Regions from separate parts of the Homo sapiens genome. Here region 1 is linked to region 2. Evidence: fine-mapped QTL for protein levels in blood plasma. A gene starts in region 2. The other region holds a variant in brackets. All regions are shown on one strand. Distances are between the middles of the regions. Region 1 has its middle 58 kb from the start of CHL1. Region 2 holds the start of CHL1 (cell adhesion molecule L1 like).

The links. PIP is the posterior inclusion probability: the model's chance that the variant is causal. Protein levels are from antibody-based Olink assays in UK Biobank. Linkage for the fine-mapping came from a reference panel and not from the study's own genotypes, which makes the PIPs less certain.
Region 1: its variant is fine-mapped to the plasma level of the CHL1 protein (UK Biobank, PIP above 0.99).

The regions. Positions count from the first base shown.
Region 1 is chr3:132,759-145,211 of GRCh38, reverse strand. No RefSeq gene overlaps it. Among named protein-coding and RNA genes, the nearest start is that of CHL1, 58 kb to the left of the region's middle. The variant A/G (reference allele first, on the strand shown) is at 5,150.
Region 2 is chr3:190,063-202,515 of GRCh38, reverse strand. It overlaps CHL1 (cell adhesion molecule L1 like), which reads right to left and starts at 5,753. Exons shown (of 28, transcript NM_006614.4): 1 at 5,453-5,753. It overlaps CHL1-AS2 (CHL1 antisense RNA 2), which reads left to right and starts at 5,175. Exons shown (of 4, transcript NR_144487.1): 1 at 5,175-5,549; 2 at 6,008-6,060; 3 at 6,476-6,520; 4 at 6,602-6,758.

The sequences.
Region 1 (12,453 bases), 57 kb after region 2:
TTAATTCGGGACTATGATGAGATATCGCTTATGAATCAAAAAGTAACCCAAGTATTCCAAGTAGCTGTGATGGGGACAGCAGAGGGCCAGAGGTAACTGAATGGGCTCCGTGACTGGGTTTTTTTTTTCAAACTTACCAGATATGGCCGGGCACAGTGGCTCATGCCTACAATCCCAGCACTTTGGGAGGCTGAGGCGGGAGGGTCACTTGAGGTCAGGTGTTCAATACCAGCCTGACGAACATGTCCAAACCCAGTCTCTACTAAAAAATACAAAAAATAGCTGGGCGTGGTGGCATGTGCCTGTAGTCCTGCTCCTAGGGAGGCTGAGGCAGGAGAATCAGCTTGAACCAAGGAGGCAGAGGTTGCAGTGAGCTGAGATCGTGCCACTGCACTCCAGCCTGGGCAACTCCATCTCAAAAAAACAAAATAAAACAAAACAAAACTAAACTAAAAAACTTGCCAGATGTGTTGAGAGGAAGACTAAAATACTTTGCCAGTATTTTAATTCTAGGAACATGCTTTCAGTAGGCTGAATTGAACTTATCTTTTCACCTTGTTTATAAAAGGACAGAGATGTTTTATGAGTTGAATTTAAATTAAAATGAAACATTACTGTAGTAAGAAGGCCGAGGGATTTGAGCTTTTGTCTCCTAATGACATATTTAGCAAGGGTCTCCGAACACAATAAAATGAAATCACAAATCAAGAACTTGACTTCGTAAGAAACAGTTATAATTGATTAAATAAACTCTTTTTTAGACAGCATGAAGTTGGCACTAATCACATTCAAATCTAATTATATTCTAAAATTGATGTATGTTTCATCCAAAAATCTCATTCAACAATCTAGGAGAATTAAACAGAAAATGACACCTCTCCTTTTCTTACCTATTTTATTATTATTATTATTTATTCAGCCTAGGCACTAATAAAGAAAAAAGCGCTATGTAAATATATTAATAATGAGATAAAACCATAAATCTTTTATACCTGCTAAACTCAGACAGTGATTAAATATTGAAACAGATTCAATTCACTGGAAATGCAAAAAAAAAAAAAAGAACAACATTAAAAAAACAAGGATTCTTGCAAAGAAAAAAGTGCTGGCTGAGAAAATTTCATAATAGTTTCAAAGCTATAATAAGTAAAGTGCCATAATATAATATGCTAAATGACCCATTCTGAAACATTATGGCTTTGTTTGATGTTGTAAATTGCTTTATAACATGCTAGTGTCCATTGAAAATAAATCATATTACTTTAAATTATGGCAGTATCTGTTTGCTCTTAATTATTATTTTTTACCTATGACAACAAACCAATGTTGCAAAAATGAAGACTTGTTTCCTGATATTTTTGAGATAGATATCAACATGAACTATGGGAATTAAAATGTCTCTGAATAATGGCTTGGACTTACTCTAGTGAGTATATATTTTCATGGTTTAGTGTTAAAGTGCACATTGATGTCTGCCATCTAAATGAATTCTTGACACTGAGCTGGCAAAATAAAAGCAATGTGAGTAAGTTAAATACTCATTAATGTTACAAGCTCAAGAAAAACACGTATTTGATCTTTTTTAGGGACATATGGGAGCATCCAAGGTTATAGAAATTTTACACATGATCATGTTTAAATGTGAGTGCATTATGACATTCTGTTGTATATTGCCAATATATAATAATATATTGGGATAAATTGGATTTGAAAGGATGTCTTAGCCCTTCCTCATTCATTCTCCCTTTCCCTCCCCTTCCCTTGTCCCTCCTTTCCTGTTTCTTTTCCTGTATATCAATTTAATCTTAATCCTTATGTAGAATAAAACAAAGTAAACATCTGTGGCAGTAATGGGAGGGAGCCACATTTTTCTAGTGAAGGTGCCCCAGGATGTCTATGTAGCAGGAAATTCTGCAGGGAATGTTGAAGCCTGGCTGGGTTCAGAAGGCCATCAGTGCAGAAGGGTGGTCTGATGGAGATAGTAGGGCCAACTAGGGTGATGACCATGTTCACATACAGGGACACCAATCATGGCGTCAGAGTAGGGCATGGAGGGCATTCATGTTGGAGAGAAGGTAACAGCAAAGGCAGGATATTAGATGCAGAGGGATTGATCAAATAAGCAAATCAATTAAAAATAATGGGATATAGTTTTCTCACTATCAGAGACATGGATATACAAATATGGAAAGGGGAAAAACTAGATGGAACTCTAGGATGTTGGATTGAAATTACAGGTATTGCTGTGAACTCATGTTTTTCAATGTATATGTGACAGAGATGCGAATAAATGTAGATAAAAACATGAATGTATTTTGTGTATGCATTCGTGTATTGCATAGCTGTTTTCACTCAAGGGCCTGCAAATGGGAACACTCCAATACCAATAAGCACATTTAGCACACAGATCTTGGCTTCCAAATATCATTCTGGAGCTCCATGAAGAAATGGTTAAATCCATGGCTGAGAAAGGGAAAGTGCAAAGTAATCCTAAAACATCTCATTATGCCAGAAAATATGAAAGCACTAAAAAAAACATGGTCAAGAGGGTAAAGAAGCCAGACAGAAGGAATTCTCATTGGCCAAATCTGAGACCATATAGCATGAAAATAAATGAGCATAGCAATAGATTTTAAACAATTGGATAAAACAGGAAACATGAGTCCATGCAAATGTAAGTAAAAGAATTCATTGAAAGTTTTATGAAGAATGAGCTATTTATACAATTTTAAGTATCTCCCAATAAAATAAATATTAATTATAAGGGGAAAAAGTAACTTTACATTGGGGAAAATTGGAAGGCACCAACTAAATCAAGTGGCCAAAATGAACAAATAGAAATAAACCCATGGAAATCACAACGTATGTCAGGATTCAATGAGAAGAACACAGCATCACTTCAGTGATACTCTTTCTAAAGACACATCATCTAAATCTAACCATGAAGCACCATTGCATGAACTCAGATTGAAGGATGGTTTTAAAAATAACCAGGCTGTGATCTTCAAAAGTGTCAAGGTCAAACTCAATGATATTAAAGACACATCACAGCTAAATGCAGCTTGTGATTCTGAATTGGATCCTTTAGCTATAAAGGGCAATATTGAGACAATTGATGAAACTTGAATGAGATCTGAGGACTAGATGGCAGTAATTTTTCAGTTCTAATTTCCTGACTCTGATGGGTGTGCTGAGGTGATGGAGGGAATGTCTTTGTTTATAGGCTACTAGGTGGTAACATGGCATTTGGTTGGCAATTTACCCTCAAATGGTTCAGGAGAAAGTTCTGTTACTGTACTTCTAATTTTTATTTAGGTCTGTGATTGTTCCAAGTTTTTATAAATGATAAAATCTTTGGTATCAGAACCTCCCCCAAAACAATTTGCTATTCTCCCAATTTAAAGATAGTTTTGATAATTCGGATTGCTTTAACAATCTCTGAATTTTAATGGATATAATAGATTGCTACCACCCTAGAGAATTTCTATGTAATTCAATTATTTTTCTAGTTCACTTTATATCTTGCTGTGATGTATTTACACATTGTACCCTGGGACCTAAGGATAATATGGATAATCAATTGTTCAACAAAATGGAATGCAAGCCCTAAGACAGCATATACCATTCTTATATATGGTTTAAAATATGCTTATTTAATTCCATGTTAGAGTAAAATCAGATAAAATTACAATTATATTCATGTATTCTCCAGAAGTTAACTAAGCCCTAAAGTGATTAGCCACAAAGAAATTTTAATTAGTTTGATGAAATCAGCCTTATAAGCAGCTGGAAATTTGGAGATCCCAGAAAATGATGTTATTTAATCTTAAAAAAAAATCCCAAGGAATTAAAATGCTTTTTCTGAGAGGAGCAGAGGAGTAACTCCCTGCCAGAACAACACAACTTGTATGCAACCGTGTTCCTCCACAGTTATCTCTGTTTTAATGTGCGTGTGGGGTTCCCGGATTACAAAGCGGCTGAGGTAGGCACAATACTGTTATGTGAATAATGGTATTAAGACAGACAATATGGATTATTGACATTATGTTTTACATAATGCCATATAAAACAAGGGGCCTTGCATAGCAAATCTCTGCTGAAAAGGCTCAACCTTATCACATTACCATGGATCAGTGTGAATTCCTTTTTTAAAGCAGAGTTCTGACCAGGGTTGGGAGCCAAGTTCTTTTCTAACTGTGTTTATGCAAAGACTTCATTTCAGATACCTTGGGCTGGAGCAGCATGTAAATTGTCAGTAAAAAATATTGCTAGCCTGAAGCTACCAATAGAGCCAGTTGTACAGCCAAATGTGCAGATTTGGCAAACCAGCTGTCTTCCCTGCTCAAGGAATTTTCGTGTTGTGCTCCTGCTAAGCAAATCAAACAAGCATTACTTCAGTGGCTTTTATATTGCAATGAAACCTGAGGCTTTGTGGAAATTTAAACAAAGGTTACTCAATATTTTCTCTCTTCTTTTAATGATCATTTCTTCACTTGTTTCTTACATACAAGTTTCAAATGTTGAGAATGTCTAAAGGACAAAATGTAATCCTACATTTTGGCATTTTCAACTACTATAAAGATAGAGAGAGAGGTAGGGAATGAGGCAGAAAGAAAGATGAGCTGGTTCTAAGAACACAATGTCCTTTCTTTTGTTTCTAAAATGATAGATCCATGAAGGCAGCTATTTCTGCTATTTAATTTACTATCATGGCACTCATCAGTGCATGGAAAAATGCCTGGTGGATTTCTGAATTTAAAAGTATTTACTTCTAGGGTAGAGAAAAGTGACTTACATTAAGTTCTTATCATGGGTTTAAGTCATTATTCTTAATTTGGAAGGAGTTTAATCCTGAGAGGATGAAACCTCCTAAAATGAAAAAGAAAGGCTATCATTACTAATTTCTCAAGAACATGGCTTTCTAGTGGAGTCCCCAGTCAGATCAGAAGACAGTCCAGACCAAATGTTTCTTTGAGCATTATTCATTCTTCATTTAACAAATTTGTAGTGTATATCTAGTATGTGTCAAACACTGTAACACATGCTGTAGATATAAACACAAATGGACAACTTCTCTACCTTAGGATGTTTAGTGAGGGTGAAAGATTCTGCAGTACAATGTGATAAGTACTATGAAATGGACACCACA[A/G]AGGTGTGGTTTTTGACCCAAATGATGTTAGTATTCATAAATAATAAGAATAAAGTAACATAAGAAAGTCTAATAAGAAAGACAGCCAGATAAGAAGTCTGAATAGTTATGTTGCCCTCAGTATAAAAGCCCTCACGTGTGTTTTGCAAGCAATGGGAGAGCTTCTGTCTTTATTTGTATCATTTCCCCTGAGCTTTCTGTCTACTTAGTAAGCCTATTTAGAAGGTCTTTGGTTTCTGCCCACTTGAAATCATACTAACAAAACCTTGTCATTTTAAAATTACCATTCCACAAGCTACTTTTTATTAGGCATTGTGCTAAGTCTTTTGCATTATCTCATTTATCTTTTAAAATATGCTGCAAGTAAACTATGCATCTGCCAAAGTTCTAATATCCAGCATCTATAAGGAGCTTAACAAATTTACAAGAAAAAAACAAACTATTACATTAAAAAGTGGGCAAAGGACATGAACAGACACTTTTCAAAAGACAACATACATGTGGCCAACAAGCATATGAAAAAAGCTCAACATCACTGATCATTAGAGAAATACAAATCAAAACCACAATGAGATACCATCTCACACCAGTCAGAATGGCTATTATTAAAAAGTCAAAATATAACAGATGCTGGTGAGGTTGCAAAGAAAAAAAGAATTCTTATACACTGTTGGCAAGAGTATAAATTAGTTCAACCTTTGTGGAAAACAATATGGCAATTCCTCAAAGAGCTAAAAGCAGAACTACCATTCAACCCAGTAATCCCAATACTGGCTATATATCCAAAGGAATATAAATTATTCCATCATAAAGACACATGCATATGTATGTTCATTGTAGCACTATTCACAATAGCAAAGACACAGAATCAACCTAAATGACCACGAATAGTAGACTGGAGAAAGAAAATTTGGTACATACACACCATGGAATACTATGCATCCATAAAAAAGAACAAGATCATGTCCTTTGCAGGAACATGAATGGAGCTGGAGGCCATTATCCTAACTAACACAGAAACAGAATACCAAATACCGCATGTTCACGCTTATAAATGGGAACTAAATGATGAGAACACATGGGCACATTGAGGAGAACAACACACACTGAGGCCTAGGTACAAGGAGGGAGAGGATCAGGAAAGATAACCAATAAATACTTGGCTTAATATCTGGGTGACAAAATAATCTGCACAACAAACCCCTGTGGCACAAATTTACCTATGTAACAAAGCTGTATATGTACCCCTGCACTTAAAAGTTAAAAAAAATTAAAAAATAGTATGCTGCAAGTTAGATATTTCTACTCTTGCTACACAGAAGATGAAATTGGAATTTAGAATGCTTAAAAATTCAACTTTTCACATCTAGTAAGAGTCAGAGGCAGGACTACACTGCGCCCTATGACCTTCAAAAATCAAGTAATACTTTAAAAAAAAAAAAAAAAGATCCGCTTCATGGTCATTCTCGCTCAGAGCTGTGAAACTTGTCAGAATTAAAATGGAGTCACTTGGGTCAAATCCTGACAAAATGGTGTCTAAGAAGGCCATGAAGGGAGGGTTCTCACACATGATTGCCTGATAACAAGAGCTATCATGAAAGATTCTGCCAAAACCACGACTGTGCACAAGGCCACTGCAAACCGACATAAAAAATACTTCTGCAAGGACATCTGCCCAGCAACTGCCTGTCCTGCCTTAGACTGAGGCAATCCTGGTTATTCATGCTTGTAGCCAGGGATAACTATTTCAGAAACACTTATGTGGCCCTCATCATTTTACCTTTAAAAATCCTTATCTTCTTTTGCCTCCCTGAAAACACCCATGCGTATTCCTATTGCAATGCTCGTTCCTGAATAAACTTATTTTTGAAGAATCTCCTTCTGTTTGTTATTTTGATTGCCATAACCAAAAACTGTCATATATTTAGATGTTATGCATCCTAGGCAGTTTACTTACTGTGCCACTGCCCCTATAGACAATCATCACTGTGATTTTAGTCAGAGCTTCTGTTTTAGTGAACTTAAGAATCACTGAAAAACACATTAAAATGCAAACTTCTGAGCTGCAGTTTAAGGTACTAAATAAAAATTTCAGGAAGAACAATTCGTATAATTCCATTTTTATCCAGACAACATGTAATTCTAATTCAATTGTTCTGTGGACCACTTGTTGAGCCACATCGATTCAATTATCTCATTATGACACTTGGAATCACTCAGATTATGGGATAAGTCTGATACATGGACTAAAATGCTCTCAGTAGCCCTGGGCTAGAGACCTTACAATCAACTTTAAAATCAGACTTTACAGGACTCTTAATTTGTTATTTCAACATATATTTACAGAACACCTATTCTGAGCCAAATGCTGGCAATAGGAATTAAAGTGGGAAGCAGCTTAGACAAAGTATCTGCTCACAGAGAGCTTACATTTTAGTCATAAAATAAATAAATAAATAAATAAATAAATAGACATATGTAAAGTGAGGAAGTGTTAGGTGACTTTCAGGCACAAAAGTAAATAAAACTGGGTAAAATGATAGAGAAAGCTTTAGAAATGGGGCTACTTTTGACTGAGTTATTAGAGAAGATTTCTCAGAAGTGGTATTTTAGTTGAAATCTTTGAGATAAGGAGAGGCCAACCAAGAAAAGGCCATAAAGAAGGGCAAAGAGAAGAGTTATCCCGTGGGCACCTCGGTGGGAAACAAGCTTGGCATGTGTGGGAAGCTGAGAGAAGGTAGTGAGGCAGGATGTAGTCAGTGAGGGTAACAGGGACACTAAAAAATGTTAGAGGGAGAGGCTGAAGGAAAATTATGCAGCATTGGATTGCCAGTAATCAAGGTGTAATGGAGACCACCGGAGTTTTTAAAGCGAGGTAGCAAGAGAGCTTGCTATACAATCCTTCAGAATAACAAGAGCAAAAGAATTTATTGCATTGGTTGAAACTGTGTGTAATTCATCAACTAAGAGGAGATCATGGGTTGATTTTTCTTCATGTCTTCTTTAGAGGCTAATTTATTCCAGTTTCTCTTATTAATGATGTGAGACACTTACCTTCATATATTGGTCCCTATCTTGTTCAAATCCAGCTAGATTTTCGATCTCACCTGCTTAGAATTTTAGGGCTTTCATGCTGTCTACGCATTTCAGGAGTTCATAGGTTGCAATAGTGTTAATTCTTTCTGAGGAGTTAACACAGAAAATCTGGTAGCTTGCTCCTTGCATGTCGCCATTGGAACCTAGAACCATAATTAACCATGGCAAAACCCTGGGAAGATAGTATGTGGAAGATTCTTTATGTTAATGATTTATGATTTTGCTGTATATATCTGAAGCAATAGACCATGCCATACTAACTCGACAGAATTGCTTTGCACAAACATCAAAATTGATGACATGAACCTGATTTTATTATTGGAGTCCTGAGTTTCAGTCGCCCTCTCTGGTGGCACAGAAGAGTGTACTAATGTGACCAGCCTCCGTGAACATTTCAGGCCCTGACACTTCACTGGGCTTCCCTGGGCAGAGACATTCCAGGGAATCTTCCCATGGCTGTTGGAGAAAAAGCCTGTTCTGTGTGGCCTGAGATGAAGAAGGACTCTAAACCTATTCCCAACATCTATGGAATCTGCCTGATGCATATGTTTTCCCTACCATTGTTACTCCGTATAATTTGTTATAATAAACTTTAGCCATGAGAACAAACTGCTTTTGGGTATTCTGGGTCCTTCTAGCAAATAACTGAATTTGGATGGAGTGGGACTGTTGAAACACTGCCTAGCATTTGTTCCAGCTGATGGAAAAATTGTAGTACTATTTGTGTTTGTTGATTAGGCTTGTTTCTTCTTTGATAACTTCACTGCTTTCTTTTTTATTCTTCCTGATAATTTATTACTAGGGTCAAGTTTTATATACAGTAGTGTCCCCTTATTCATAGTTTCACTTTCTGCAGTTTCAGTTACCTGCAGTCAGCCATGGTCTAAAAATATTAAATAGAAAATTTCAAATATAAACTATTTAAAAGATTTAAATTGTGTGCCATTTTGAGTAGCATGATGAAATCTCCAACCATCCAGGTCCTTCTGCCTGGGATTTGAATCCTCCCTTTGTCCAGCACATCCCCACTGTATACTCTACCTGACACTGGAGAGTTAGTAGCTGTGTCAGTTATCAGACTGACTGTCTCATTATCACAGTGCTTGTGTTCAAGTAACTCTTATTTGACTTAATAATGGCCCCAAAGTGCAAGAGTTGTAATGCTGTCAATTTGAATATGCCAAATAGAATCCTTAAAGTGCTTCCTTAAAGTAAAAAGGTAAAAATTCTTGACAAGAAAAAAAATCGTATGCTACAGTTGCTAAGATGTATGTGAAGAAAAAATCTATCCAAGAAAATATAAAGAAGAAGAAAAAATAGTGCATAGTATATACAGTGTTTAATACTATATCCAGTATATACAGTGTTTAATACTATATCCAGTATATACAGTGTTTAATACTATATCCAGTATATACAGTGTTTAATACTATATCCAGTATATACAGTGTTTAATACTATATCCAGTTTATACAGTGTTTAATACTATATCCAGTATATACAGTGTTTAATACTATATCCAGTATATACAGTGTTTAATACTATATCCAGTATATACAGTGTTTAATACTATATCCAGTATATACAGTGTTTAATACTATATCCAGTATATACAGTGTTTAATACTATATCCAGTTTATACAGTGTTTAATACTGTATCCAGTTTATACAGTGTTTAATACTGTATCCAGTATATACAGTGTTTAATACTGTATCCAGTTTATACAGTGTTTAATACTATATCCAGTTTATACAGTGTTTAATACTATATCCATTTTATACAGTGTTTAATACTATATCCAGTATATACAGTGTTTAATACTATATCCAGTATATACAGTGTTTAATACTATATCCAGTTTATACAGTGTTTAATACTATATCCAGTATATACAGTGTTTAATACTATATCCAGTATATACAGTGTTTAATACTATATCCAGTATATACAGTGTTTAATACTATATCCAGTATATACAGTGTTTAATACTATATCCAGTATATACAGTGTTTAATACTATATCCAGTTTATACAGTGTTTAATACTGTATCCAGTTTATACAGTGTTTAATACTGTATCCAGTATATACAGTGTTTAATACTGTATCCAGTTTATACAGTGTTTAATACTATATCCAGTTTATACAGTGTTTAATACTATATCCATTTTATACAGTGTTTAATACTATATCCAGTATATACAGTGTTTAATACTATATCCAGTTTATACAGTGTTTAATACTATATCCAGTTTATACAGTGTTTAATACTATATCCAGTATATACAGTGTTTAATACTATATCCATTTTATACAGTGTTTAATACTATATCCAGTATATACAGTGTTTAATACTATATCCAGTTTATACAGTGTTTAATACTATATCCAGTTTATACAGTGTTTAATACTATATCCAGTATATACAGTGTTTAATACTATATCCATTTTATACAGTGTTTAATACTATATCCAGTATATACAGTGTTTAATACTATATCCAGTTTATACAGTGTTTAATACTATATCCAGTTTATACAGTGTTTAATACTATATCCATTTTATACAGTGTTTAATACTGTATCCAGTATATACAGTGTTTAATACTGTATCCAGTATATACAGTGTTTAATACTGTATCCAGTTTATACAGTGTTTAATACTGTATCCAGTATATACAGTGTTTAATACTATATCCAGTTTTAGGCACCCTCTGGGGGTCTTAGCACATAACCATTGCAGGAAAGAGGGGACTGCTGTATAGGTACATGAAGGAGATACAAAAACACATGGACATTAGATGGCTTTATGTTTATTTGTACATATACATTTATATATACATGCATTTATATATTATATATAGTGTATATATCACAATATAATACATATATAATTGATACACATACATTTATGCATATATGTAAATTTAAGTATACATCATATAAGAAGAATATGGCTGGCCTTTGCCCCTGGTTCCTGAAGGCGAGACTCTGAATCCTTGAAATTTCCCAAGTGATAGGAGTTTCTTTGTTATTCATGTGTGCCTTGGATCACACTTGAGTTTATGCAAAGCAGATGATTCAGGTTAGGGACTGGTTACCAAAAAAAGGCAACCATGTGATTAGAGAGGCTTTGAGCTTGGGAAGCTAGAAGTGGCTAGAGATTTGGTTCAATCCACTTGCCTATGTAATGAAAACCCAGTAAAAACCCTGGACACCAAAGCTTACTGGAACTTCATGGCTGATGAACACACTGACGTCCTGAGTGGGTGATGTGCTCTGATCCCATGAGAAAAGTGCATAGAAGTTCTGAATATTTGACACTCGAAGACCTCATCTATGTGTCTCTCCCTCTAGCTAGTCCTACATTGTATCCTTTAAAATAAAACTGTAATTATGACACCTTCCTGAATACTGTGAGTCATTCTAGCATTAAAGTATTAAATAGTATTAAAGCTGGGGGAGGGGACATGGGAACATCCCAGTTTTGTAGCCAGTTGATCAAAAGTACAGGTAGCCTGGGGACCCTCTAACTTGCTGTTCACATCTGAAGTGAGGGCAGTCTCGTTGGGGATCGTGTCTTTTAATCTATGGGGAGTCTAACACTAACTCCAGGTGGTTAGCTTCAAAATTGAGTTACAATATTTTAGTATACAAATGTAAAGAGTGAAGGTCAGTATATTAATCAGTGTTCTTCAGGGAAACGTAACCAATGGGATAACAGAAATATAAGAGGAGATTTATTATGAGAATTGGCTCACAACGGTTATGGAGTCCAGGAAATTTTAAGATATGCTGTCTCTATGCTGGAAAACCAGGAAAGCCAATAGTGTAATTCAGCCAAAGTCCAAAGGTTTGAGAGTTAAGGGAGCTAATGGTGTAACTGCCTGTCCAAGGCCAAAAGCCTGAGAACCAGGGAGGAGCAGTAGGGGATGGATGAGAGGCAGCTCTGGGGTGAGTCTCTGAGTTCAAAGGCCCAAGAACCAGGGGCTCTGATGTCCAAGGGCAGGAGAACATGGCTATCCCAACTCAAGAAGAGAGAGAAATAATTGGCCCTTCCTCTACCTTTTTGTTCCATTTGGACCCTCGATGGATAAGATGATGGCTGCCCACATTGGTGAGGGAGAACTGTGTTTACTCAGTCTACTGAGTAAAATACTGATCTTCTCTGGAAACACCCTCACACACACACCCAAAAATAACATTTTAT
Region 2 (12,453 bases):
GTAGCTTTACAGAACTCTCCAGACGATTCTAATTTCAGCCAAGCCTAAGAACAACTATTGCGAAAACCTTTTAAATATGTGAAGCAATCATTATTGGTATATGTGCATATAATTAATGTAGGAATCAACAGTTTGCCATTTGACACCACCATTGATCATGGCTCACAGTTATTCACATACACAGGGATACACACACACATACGCTCTGTCCCTCTATCTTTGTTCATTCACATACTGAACATGATATAGAAGGATAATTATCACTACAATAAAAAACCGTGCTACTAATCTGTCTGCATAGATTGCCCCATACAATGTCCACAAGAACACATGTGACATGTGAGCTAAGTATGGCTATTTCCCCGTTTCTAAAGAAGAAACTAGTCTTAGAGAGGTCAACATGACTAAGCCAATGCCACACACCTGCAAGCTGACAGACTTAGATTTTGAACCCTGGCAGCCTGACTTTTATAGCCAGTGCATGTAACCACCACAACAGTTCGCTTCCTGCTGTGCCAGACACTTTAAGAGTTTATGAGATGCATAAAAGGAAATGTATACCCTCAAGGAGTTTACAGTCTGAAAAGGAAATTGTGATGCACACTAAAATTCATAGGTTGTATAGGAAAATGGCACAATTGTAGTCCCTGGAGTTAGGAAGAGGTGAATCAGAAGATGGGCAACAGAGCTCCTACCTCCACAACTATAGGGGAAATAAGATGCAAACAAACATTAGAAGGGAGAATGTTATAAGACTACCAGGAGAAGAAACCCTGGTCAAAGCATAAAATATAATTATATATTGACCAAGTTCAATGCATTTATCATTCTTATCATCATCTGCCAGCATCATTTGATTCAGATATTTATACCCACCCTAAATGTACCAAACTGTCAGTTCAATTAGCAAACTATGAATTTTGAGAATTCATCTCACCTCAAACTCTAGTTGTGATTCTTATTGAAATTATGTATATAAGCATCACACACACGCACACACACATACACATATACACTCACACACACTTCTAATAATTTAACTTCCAAAGAGATACACAAGTTGTATTCTTCACTAGGAATAAATTATGTGAAAGTGAAGTCAACATTTCAGGAAAATGCCTTAAAATTGAAAACGGAATATGTCCCTTTGTATTTTTATGATCTAAACACAATGAGAAGGTAAGCAGGATCATTTTTTACCCACAACACATAAAATCTCAATTAGTTATGGTCTATTTGTGCACTGACTTAAAACATTCGTTAACGAAACAGAATTTTCTAGTTTACTGGATAAATATACCAGAAATGGCAGAATAATGTCAGGTTGCCAAGCAACCACAGCTCTACTCTACTTTGTGATCAATCCAACTCATTCATTGAGCTTCCTAACCCAGTGATACAGAATTCCAACCAATTTGTTTCTTGGGAAAATTATAGTGACTTTCAGTAACACAATAACACTTTTATTCTCAGAAGATAAACTTAAATCCTTTTTGATCAAAGGGATGTGTTAATTCATTATTCTCTACGTGGTGCTAATGAGAAAGCTATAATTAACTAACTACACTATTGCGACACACATAAAATAAACTGCAGTAATTAGTAATGTTTAAGGTGTTAAGCAGCCTCCCAAATTAGAAAATACAATCTTTCCTCAGATAAAGATGTACAGAAAAAAGAAAGCAGCATATCTAATTAAATTGAGAATTGTTTCCAGTCTCCCCCAAGGGGTGAGAGGAAAGGCATGTGATCACCAAAATATAAGAGATTTCACTTTAATAGCAGAGAAAAGGCTCAATGCCAATTCTACTTGTAGATAGACATAAAATGATAGCGAATAATGTAATCTTTCTTTGAAAGAATGCTTAGCACAATATTTTTCCAGGAACAAACAGAAAGAATATTATGCTTTCACTCATTAGCTGTGTTAACTTAGCATATTGTATGTAAATGACCATAATAATTGCATTCTCTTCCGACTGAATTAGTCAGAATGAAACTGTAATCAAAATGTTCATAATTGAAAATATAGTATTCTCAATCTTGGTTTGAAAAAATAACAAGGAACGTTGACTGAATCAGATAATATAGTACATCACTGAAAACAACCTCAGTACAGAGACAAGTTCATTCTCTTGATTATACCTTTGCATTTCAATTAGGTCCCCAAATTCAGAACTCAACACCTCCCAATCTGTCATGTTTTCCTACTCTTACCATTTGTCTCTGGACTAACTTAAGCATTCCAAGTGCATTGCTGCTAGATTTTTAGGGAAAATAGAAAATGGTGAAAAGCTAATTTTATTGTTTCTAAAATACATTAGACTCTATTGCACTGTTGGCTGTCATAAATTAAAGGGCAAAATAATTTCCAATAAATGAAACATTTAATGCCAAAGCTCCTGGGAAACAATATGTAAATGATCACATGAATTTCAGAGAAGCTGTCACACTAATTCCTCAAGGTACCTTTTAAAGATGACATATTCACAGTGAGGATGAGAGGGTTGTCTTGCAAAGCCAAACACTGCTACCTGAAGTAATACTCTCAGTATTTCCTGACAATCATTCCTTCAAATCTGACACCAGTAGTTCCCCAACTATTACTTAATTTTCTTTTATCGGTTAAAAATACAAGAATCTTAAATCAGTCTTGATCGTTACCCTTATTTTTCTATAAAAGCGAATCAGGCTAAATTATTTCAACAAAGCAATTTTGGGGCAAATAACCTCCTATCTTCAAAGATTTCAGAAGCAACTATAAAATCAGGTTTCTATCTAGCAAATGTTTTTCTGGGTGAGCTCTATTTTGTAAAGGTCACTAAGGATCTTTGTGATGGTGACATCTGTCAGGCTTTACTTGCCTCAAGTTCACCAAGAAATGCCTATATTTTAATAATCAAATGATTTTAAAAATTTATTTAAAACCAATTCATGTAATGAGATGAATTAACTTAAATGCAATAAGTATAGTATGTGCAAAATCAACTCCTCTTAGACCTACAGCTAGGCCCACGAAGTGTACAGTGTACTTATCAGCAGATAGGTTGGAGGACCTATATAACCATGAGGAATCAATAAATATCTATAGCCGTTTCTTTGAAGAAAAGGATCCGTAAGTCTACATGCAACAGATAACAATCTGGGAAACATATATTCATCATCATAGTCTTGTGCTGCAGTGAAGTGGGTACAAACATACCCTGAAAGAGATTTTAATGAGTTGCCATAGCCAGTACTCACACCCATCCAGTAATAACTATTTGTCTCCATTGATTTGCTCACAATATTCAGGAGCTTGCAAGGAATGATTATACACTACGTTCTGCCATTACTAAAGGTAAATCCACTGCAGCACTTAAGGCCATAAAATGGAAAGCCAGGGTATACATAGGCTCTGTAACCACGTTAAATTATGAAAGCCAAATGGTGGTCCCTCACAAAGAGACTGAAATTAAGACAAACCCAACTGCAACATCTGCAGGTGAAAGAGAAAACACAAAGATTTACAAAAGAAAAACTCTGGGATAAACTTTTTATTTTCTTGTCACCAAAAGTTTCCCCAAAGAGCTTCCTAAGCTTCTCTCTCCATCAATATACTGAAAAGCCAACTTCATCGGCAGTTGATCAGTTTCTCTCTTCCAATCTGCTGCAAGGCAGAGCTTCGTAGGAGTTGGACTGTGCAGTACAAATATTCATATTTTAATTAAGATTATTCTCCAAAATTAGAAAACGCAGAATTTTTACTTCAATGAAAATGCAGAGAAATGAAAATGCACCATATGTAATTAAACTGAGGATTAACTAACAGTAATGGCATCAACGACAATAACTTTTGAGTGCTTATTATGCATCAAATATGCATATGGTGTTAAATTTAAAAATCTATGGTGTTAAATTACTTGTATCATCTCATTCCAGTCTTGCAACAACCCAGTATAGAGGGTATCGATAATCTCCGTATTATTGAGAAAGGGAAACTGAGGCACGTAGTTAAATGCCTAGTCCAGAGTGACGCATCACAGTGATGGTGGAGCTGGAATTCGAAGCCACGTGGGCGTCCCGGGAGCCTCCGCCTAGAGCGAGCCCGGGGGGCCCACCAGTTACCATCGCCACGCGCACGCGCAAATCTCCCCGCGCACGGCGCGTTCCCGCGGGAGCGCGCCCTCGCGCACGCGCCTGGCAGGGCAGCCGCTCGCCGGCCCTGGGGCTGCTCCGCGGCTCCCACGAGCGGGACTGGACGCCGGCGCCCTTCGAGGAGGGGCTGAACCTGGGGCGCCCTCTCTGCCGGGCCACCCAGCCCTGCCGACGCACACCTGCCCTCCGCCGCCGGCCTCCCACCCCTTCCCCGCCCGCCTTCCCGCCCAGCAGCCCAAACGCCCACCCTGCGCTCCACCCTGCTGGCCGTCTGGGGCGGGGGTACCTGGGCCCGCGCGGCTGCTGCTCCTCCGGCCCGTGGTTTTTCGCAGGAGTTCCCCGGCCCTGCCCCTGGCTGAGACACTGTGGCTCGCAGCGAGCCCGGAGAGTGGGAACGGAGGGGCTGGCTTTCCCCAGCCTCCCGGCTCCAATCCCTGCTCCCCAAATTAATCACTTTCTCCGTGCTGCCTCCCCACGCACACTCACACTCCAAAAAAAAAAAAAAAGCGAGAGAAAGAGAGAGGCACAAAGAGGAAGAAGGGACCATCCGCGACCGGCATCTCCAGCCCCCCGGGCTCCGCTACCAGGAGCCATGGCAACCACGGCCCCCGGCGCGCCCTCTCGCCCCTCGGCGGTCTGGGGAGGTGGAGCTCTAGCCCCTCTCTGGGTTTTCGTGCTCCCCAACCCCACAACCCCACGGTCCATGGATTCCCCGCTCCAGGCTGGCGGCATTTTCGGAACCCCCCCCGGGCTGGGATCTAGAATCCTCTCCTGAGAGGAGGAGCCACACAGGGGCAGTGGACTGGGGGGGTCTGAGCCCCACACACCAGGCGGTGTCCAGGGGAGCGAGGGGCGCGGTGGGAGACAGAGGCCGGGACTGACCCCCAGACCAGCTAGACCTCGGAGCCCCACCCGAGAGAGGGCGGAGATCTACGGGGGGGTCTGGAATCCTCCTCAGAGAGCAGCGAGGGATGGGGTGGCGGAGGCTGGAAGCGGGAGGGCCAACCTACCGGCGGCCGGCGGGCGTGAGTGGGACCCGGCGGATTCGGGCGCCCGGTGTGCTCCGTCGACTGACCCCGAGCTGTCCGAATCCGGCCTCGGCCACCGGGGGCGGGGCGTGAAAAGGGGGCGTCTCCTCCCGGGTGCAGGCTGAGGGGCCCGGACCACCCCCACTGCGGACGAGGGACCCTGACCGCGCCCCGCTTCCTTTCCATAACGAGTGGACCCCTCCCGGAGCACCTTCAGCCCTTCCTCCACGGGAGACCCCCCCAGCGCCGGCACGAGAGATGCCAGCGGACCCCCACCCCTGACACACCTGCGCCGCCTCCGAAACGCGATCTGTCCGGCGCCTCCCCTCGGGCGCCTTCTCCCCCGAGCCGGCCGGGAGCCGGGACGGGGGCGCGCAGGGTCCGGTAAGCTCTGGGCGGATCCAGGGAGGGTCTCGCCGGCCGCTGCCCGCTGGTCCGCACCCGGGGCTGTCCGCGGAGGTCCCGCCCGTCCCCTCCCGCCGCTGGCTCTCTGGCCGCGGGAAGGCTGGAGCCGTTCTGGCTGGCACCGGGGTCTACGCCCTCCTGCCGGAGGCTGGCTCTCGCCTCTGCTCCCTTCCTGGGTTCTGCGCCGCCACCCCTCACCCACGCCGCTTATCTTCCCTCCCTTTGCACGCTCCCGCGGGACAGGGAGAGTTACAGGCTTCAGACTTTATCTCGTTGTGGAAAGCAAGAGACCAAGCCAAAAACTTTGGTCGTGCTTTTCAACATCTCCGGTCAAAAGAGGTAGGATCCCTGCTCGTTTATCTGCAAAAGCGACATTTAAAAGAAACGCCCCCCACCCCCTCCCCGATGGTTTCACTCGGTTCATGTTGCACACACAGGTCGCCAATCTGCTTTTCTCCCATTGCTGCGTCTTAGAGGGGTGTGGTGCCATGTACGTATTAAAAATTGTCTTCTTGCTTTCCTTCATTTAAGGGCGTGGTGGGGCTTGCTATTGAATTTACAAAATATGCTACGACCATCCGCTGTCAAATTGTGCATGCTTAAATTTACAGATCTTCTACTATCTCACAATTTTTGCCCTAATACAGAGTCTATAATGTTACCACATCGTTTCGTAACGTTTTTCCTACTTATCCTTTATTAATTCACTATTGGAGAGGAAAGCCTTCTGTACTCATATTCAGTGCAAAAAGCCAGTTCTGATGCCTTATGAATCCACAAACACATAAAAATATTTTAGGATTCCAAAATTCATATGGAAAAATTATAATTTTTAGCACTACATTTGATTTATATGCCACTTTATTTTTTTTCCATTATGGTGGTATTTTCCAAAATTTTTACAGGATACCACTTTTGAAAATCCTGTTGAATGCAAGTCCTCTTTGTTGGTAAGAGAATTATTGACTTCTAATTTTTACTCCACTAAGGCTGTGAGATTGACCTTACAGCCTCGTTTTGTTTTCATCTAGCTCATTGAACAATGAGGATATTTAGCTCCCCTCAGAGCTACCCTCAGAGTTGGATGAGCTATCCTCAGAGTTGGATGCCACCACCGGGAGCAGCAAAAGCGAAGGCAACTCATGATTCTGCCTCAGAAGCAATCGAATAAAATATTTTGAAAATGAATGAATGGACTTTTAAATTTTAATCATCGCTAACCTTGGGGCCTCGATTCTGTCAATTTGTGTGTGGGCACAGTTCTTACCAACTGCCTTGGCAAATTGTGAATGCAAGTGAGGGCAGGATTTGTCCTAAGTTTAAATTGTACTGCTGGAGTGATTTCTTTTGCCTGAGGCATCATTATTCACGTGGCATGTTTTCTAAAGTAGAAACAAAGATAGAATATTAAATAAAATTCCAACAGGGGGAAATACTCTGCCTGTAGAAAAACATTTCCAAGGTCAAGGAACCACAAGAGAACAACAAAGCGAAGTTGGTCTCAGGAGTTTACCATCTTCTGGGTGAACAAACATCAGCTGAGCAAGGGACTCGGAACTCCATTTTGGCCAGATGAACAGAGTACTCTTAAATATATAGCTCCTTCTTTCTTGGTGATTTGTTTCTTGACAATAGAATCATTATTTACAAAACAAATATTTATTGAGCAGCTACTATTTAATCAATCACTGGTCTGGGTGCTGGGCTCAGTAGGAAACTCAATAGGCATGGCCAGTAGCTTTTTAAAAAATCAAATACCCTCCAAATATATTAGACAGTACCAAGCCACAATACCCAAAACAAGAAGATGGCCAGTTCTTAACTATGAGTTTTTAACTGAAAGGGAGATAACATTCTTCTAAGCTTCTGGCATTGCATATAAATGAAGAAATAATAGCCACACATAGCTTACTAGGGACAGTAAGGAAGTCAGCTTGTATGCAATACACGTTATCCCAGGCAACCAAATTTTACGAAAGAAAAGAGGGAGATAGGGAAAGTCTAGGGAAGGAAAAAAGGGAGGAAGGAAGGAAGGAAGGGAGGAAGGATGGAAAGAAAGAAGGCCAGCAAATGATAAACCAAGAAAGGAAATCGTACTTTTTAAGGCAATGCAAAAGGAAGACAGATGACCTAAATTTCTACATCCAAGAAACACCTCATAGCTGTCGCTTCCAAGGATGAGTTCATATTTTTGATACATTATCAAAAGCAGGCAACACATCTAGGCTTGCCTGGCCCCAGGAATTCACAACTCTACAGCCTGAGCTTCCAGTAAGGCTGGAACCAGAAGACAGTCCCCAGCCAGAGCGGATGCTTGCTAGAGATACCTTCTGCTGCTGCTTTGGAACCCTCCCCTGGCTCCCATTCTACTGTCTGACACTTGGTTCAGACCCATTTCCCATTCAACATACAATCCTAATCTATCAGGCATCCCACAGTTGCACCTAGGTGCTAGAGAAAGAAGATATACTTATGAGTCACATGGAAATGTGATTGCCGTAGCTTTGAAAGGTGTGAATTTTCTCTCTGATAATTGAGGACGGCCGTTTCGAATGAAAATACTAATATCAAGCCACAAAAATAGGGGAGAAAAGGGCCCTATCATGAATAGAAGCAGAAGGTGAGAGAGAGGCCAGTCATCTGGAAAAAGATAAAAGCTATTAAAAGCTGGGGCATTTTTCAGCTTTTCCTGCTGATTTACTGCCTCCCTCCCTCCCTCCTGAACCATCATTTGGTATCATTCCCAGAGCTAGGGCCATTGAAGTAGTATTGCCTTTTGGCAAATACAAGTAGCTAGTGATGTGGCATCATTCCTAGAAAAATTGTTTAGCAGAAGAGCTGGAGTTTTGAAAATGGCATTTCAGTCTAGCAGTTCCAAATAGTCACAGATCAACAGGGGCTTTCCGGCCAACTGCTGTAATAAAAAATAAAAATAAAAAATAAAAAGCAGGAAGCAGGATGTTCCACTGAGGAATAGATCCTTCAAAAGCAACCTTGAAAGTACAAAGCAGCCACTTCAGCTTTGATATTAATAAAGCTAAAAAGACCATATTAATTCTGCAGAGTTATCCTGACAGAGTCACTACTCCTTTAACTTGTCCTTTAATACAAGAACAAAAGGATATGTATTAAAAATCAAAGGGCAATAATTCTGGAACAACTAAAAAGGTAAAATCTTGTATTGCATGCCATGGATCATTAATATGTATAATTCAGCCCTGGGAGGTCATGAAATCAAATACTTTCACTGGATTTTTTAAAAAGGCTAAGAAACTTTGTGGCCATTAATAACATTATAATTATGTAGCCAAGATAATGTTAAGTGTTTTCAAATCTCATGCTTTAAGGCATCCATTGATTACTTGTGCAGGTCAGAAGGATTTCCCACCCTCCAATCAGCAATGCCTACAATGACTAGTTTTCTCTCCTATTGATGGTTTGCTCCAAAGTCCTATGCCCCCAAGTCTTATCTCAAAGGCCTGTGAACTGAGTTATAGGATGAATTCCTATTTGTTGGAGAAAGTCCTCATATGTCTGGAGGATGAGAATTTCTTCTAAACCTCTCTATTTCCAACATGGTACGAAATCTTTTCAGTCTGGAAGGGACCTCAGAAAACATAATCTTCCATAGCTTCTTTTTATATCTGAAAAGAGTAAGGTTCAGAAATTTTATCAGAGTTGTACAACTGGTTAATGGCCGAGAATATATTGAAAAAAATCTCCAAGTTTTTAATCTTGTATCATTTTACAGGATGAAAAGTCACTGCCATCTTTGAAGATAATTTTATTTATTATTATTCTGTTGCAGCAAACAAGACAAATGTCGAATAGTGGGATAGCGAGTAATACCAGGAGCATAAAGGCTGATCTTTTTACAGAGACACATAGCCAAAATGAAGTTTCTCCTTTTCTTTTTTTTTCCAGTTGTTTTTGAAAGTATGTTTTCCACTCAATGTAACAGAAACATGTTAGAGAAAAAGGAAAGACCAACAAGAGCTTGTGGCAGCCACAGGTTGTTCTCCACTTCCTCTGCCCACTAATCTGTTTTTTGTTGTTTTTGTTGTTGTTGTATGTGACGGAGTCTGGCCCTGTCGCCCAGGCTGGAGTGCGGTGGCGCGACCTCGGCTCCCCGCAAGCTCCGCCCCCCGGGTTCCCGCCATTCTCCCGCCTCGGCCCCGGGAGTAGCTGGGACCACAGGCGCCCGCCAACCCGCCCGGCTCATTTCTTCTTGTATTTTTGGTAGAGACTGATTTTCACCATGTGAGCCAGCATGGTCTCCTGACCTCGTGATCCGCCCGCTTCGGCCTCCCAGAGTGCTGGGGTTACAGGCGAGAGCCAATGGCGCCCGGCCTAGTTCTTTTTCTCCTTCTGGACACAGGGCCGCTAACCTAAAGACTAAATTTTCTAGTCACTCTTTTGACTTAGTTTGGTTCTAGGACTAGGTTCTCACCAAAGAGACATGAGGAAAAATGCTGTTGGCAACTCTCAGCTCATCTACTTAAAGATCATCTAGATTCACTTCTCCTTTTCCTTTTGACTAACCCACAGTAGTAAAAGGCTCATGTTGAGGATGACAAAGAAACCCCACTCTGGCCTGAATTCCTACATGACTCTGAGGATCAGAACCTACTTAATACCATAAAAAATTGAATGTCCCCTTTCAATTTGAGCCAATCTCCTTTGGAGACTTTTATTATAACTGCTTAAACTTTATCCTTAATGCAACTGTAATCTCTGTCGTCAGAACAATTTCAGAAGAATAGTTAAGAAAAATAAGAATGGAAGCTACCACGAATACCTGTTGTTTTTTGCTTGCCAAGCATTTATCTCCGTTCATTTAGCCTGGTTGGACCTAGGGAATAATATCTCCTATGTTTATGTGGCCGAATTGAGGCTAATTCCAATGCTTTCTAGTTACCCCTGGTCCATGTGACCCAGGCACGACCAGCCAATATTTTCTACTCCTAAGTCTATGGGGACTAAAGCTATGAAGGGCATCAGACCCAACAGAAGCCAATGAGAAACCTACCTTGGATTTATGAGCTACTAGGAAAAAACTGAGGGTTGCTCAGAGGTATGACATAAGGCAGGAGAAACTCCCTTCTTCTTATCACCACTTAGAAAGAGCCTTCCTGAGAATAAAGTCACCATAGAGAAAAGAGGAGAGAGACAGATACTTGAGAATTATATTCCAAGACCTAGATCTTCAAATAAACTGAAAGGTTATTTTTTATTAAAAGCTGAAACTGGAATACAACTTGACCTTGTAGCCGGGTGAGACAAAAAAATGTTTCATGTAAAATAGTTTCGATGGTTTCCTGTTTCTTAAAATCAAAATAATTCTTCTTCGTGGTACATTTCTAGGTAAGATTATTCTCTTGTTATAGGTTGTTTAGTAAGAGGTGTATACATGGCAAAAAAAACTCTTCATTTCATAAACTAACCTAACTGATTGGTAGTGACTTACTGAAACACTGTGTCCAAAGGATCCTGACCCTGCATCGGAGCTGAGCAGGAAAGGTTAAAGTGACCTACTAATGTTTTCTATCACAGATATTATACAAAAGATAATTCTCATGTGTTAGGTATTTACTATTCTTGCTTTAAGATATTCTTAAGGTTTAGCATACATTTAGACATGGGTGGGGACTTTATTCTTTTGAACTAAGGTATAATAGGACATCCTTTTAAGGCATATTTTTATCCGTTTTTTTAAAAAGCCATGGACCAATTAGCCCTCTCCATGCATAGTTTAGGAACCATATTTCATGCTTTCAATTAACTTTATTTTCCTACAAAATAAATTAATTAGCAGACATGTACTGAAATCACAGGTTGCTAGTATGTGATGCACTGTGCTAACACAAACATAACTCAGTTTTTTTACAAGCATTGCATTGGATTTATTGTCTTCCAGGGGTTAAATGAGACCTATCAATTTATTATTTTCATGTTGTTTTTCAGAATATGATAAACAGACAAACCTTCTTAGGCATTCAAAGCACTATGCCACAGTACAGTAAGCCCACAGCAAGGGTTCCAAATCGTCTGTTTATATTGACATGAAAAATTTGCCTTATCTTATGGGGATTAGTTACTCTCTCTTATGCCATATCCTTTCTGTTTCTCACTTAGAGAGTTTTGTGCCAGCTCATACTACAACACTTAAGGTCACATAACCAGGCAAGAGCTTTATATATAACACTTGTATTGCCCATATATTGAGTTTTCTCCAAACAGGAAACACTTATTGACTTAGATTCCTTTTTCTGTATCTGAGTGAATGCACAATAATACAAATATAGAACACATTTTCAAATATTATTACTTGCATATAGAAGCCATCTTAAAAGTTTCCTAAAAGTAAACGCTTATACACTGTTGCTGGGAATGTAAATCATTTCAGCCACTGTGTAAAGCAGTTTGGAGATTTCTCAAAGAACTTAAAACAGAGCTACCATTCAACCCAGCAATCCTGTTACTAGGTATACATGCAAAGGAAAATAAATAGTTCTACCAAAATACACATTCACTCATATGTTCATCACAGCACTATTCACAATAGCAAAAACATGGAATCAACTTAGGTGCCCATCAACAGTGTATTGGATACGAAAATGTATACACCGTGGAATACCATGCAGCCATAAAATAAATAACAAAATTGTGTCCTCGTTAGCAACATGGATGCAGCTGAAGGCCATTATCCTAAGCAAATCAAGGCAGGAACAGAAAACCAAATACCACGTTCTCACTTACAACTTGGAGTGAAAGATTGAGTACCCATAAACATAAAGATGGCAACACTAGACAATGGGAACTAGTAGCTGAGGGAGGGGAGGAGGGGACTAAGGATTGCAAAATTAATTACTGGGTACTATGC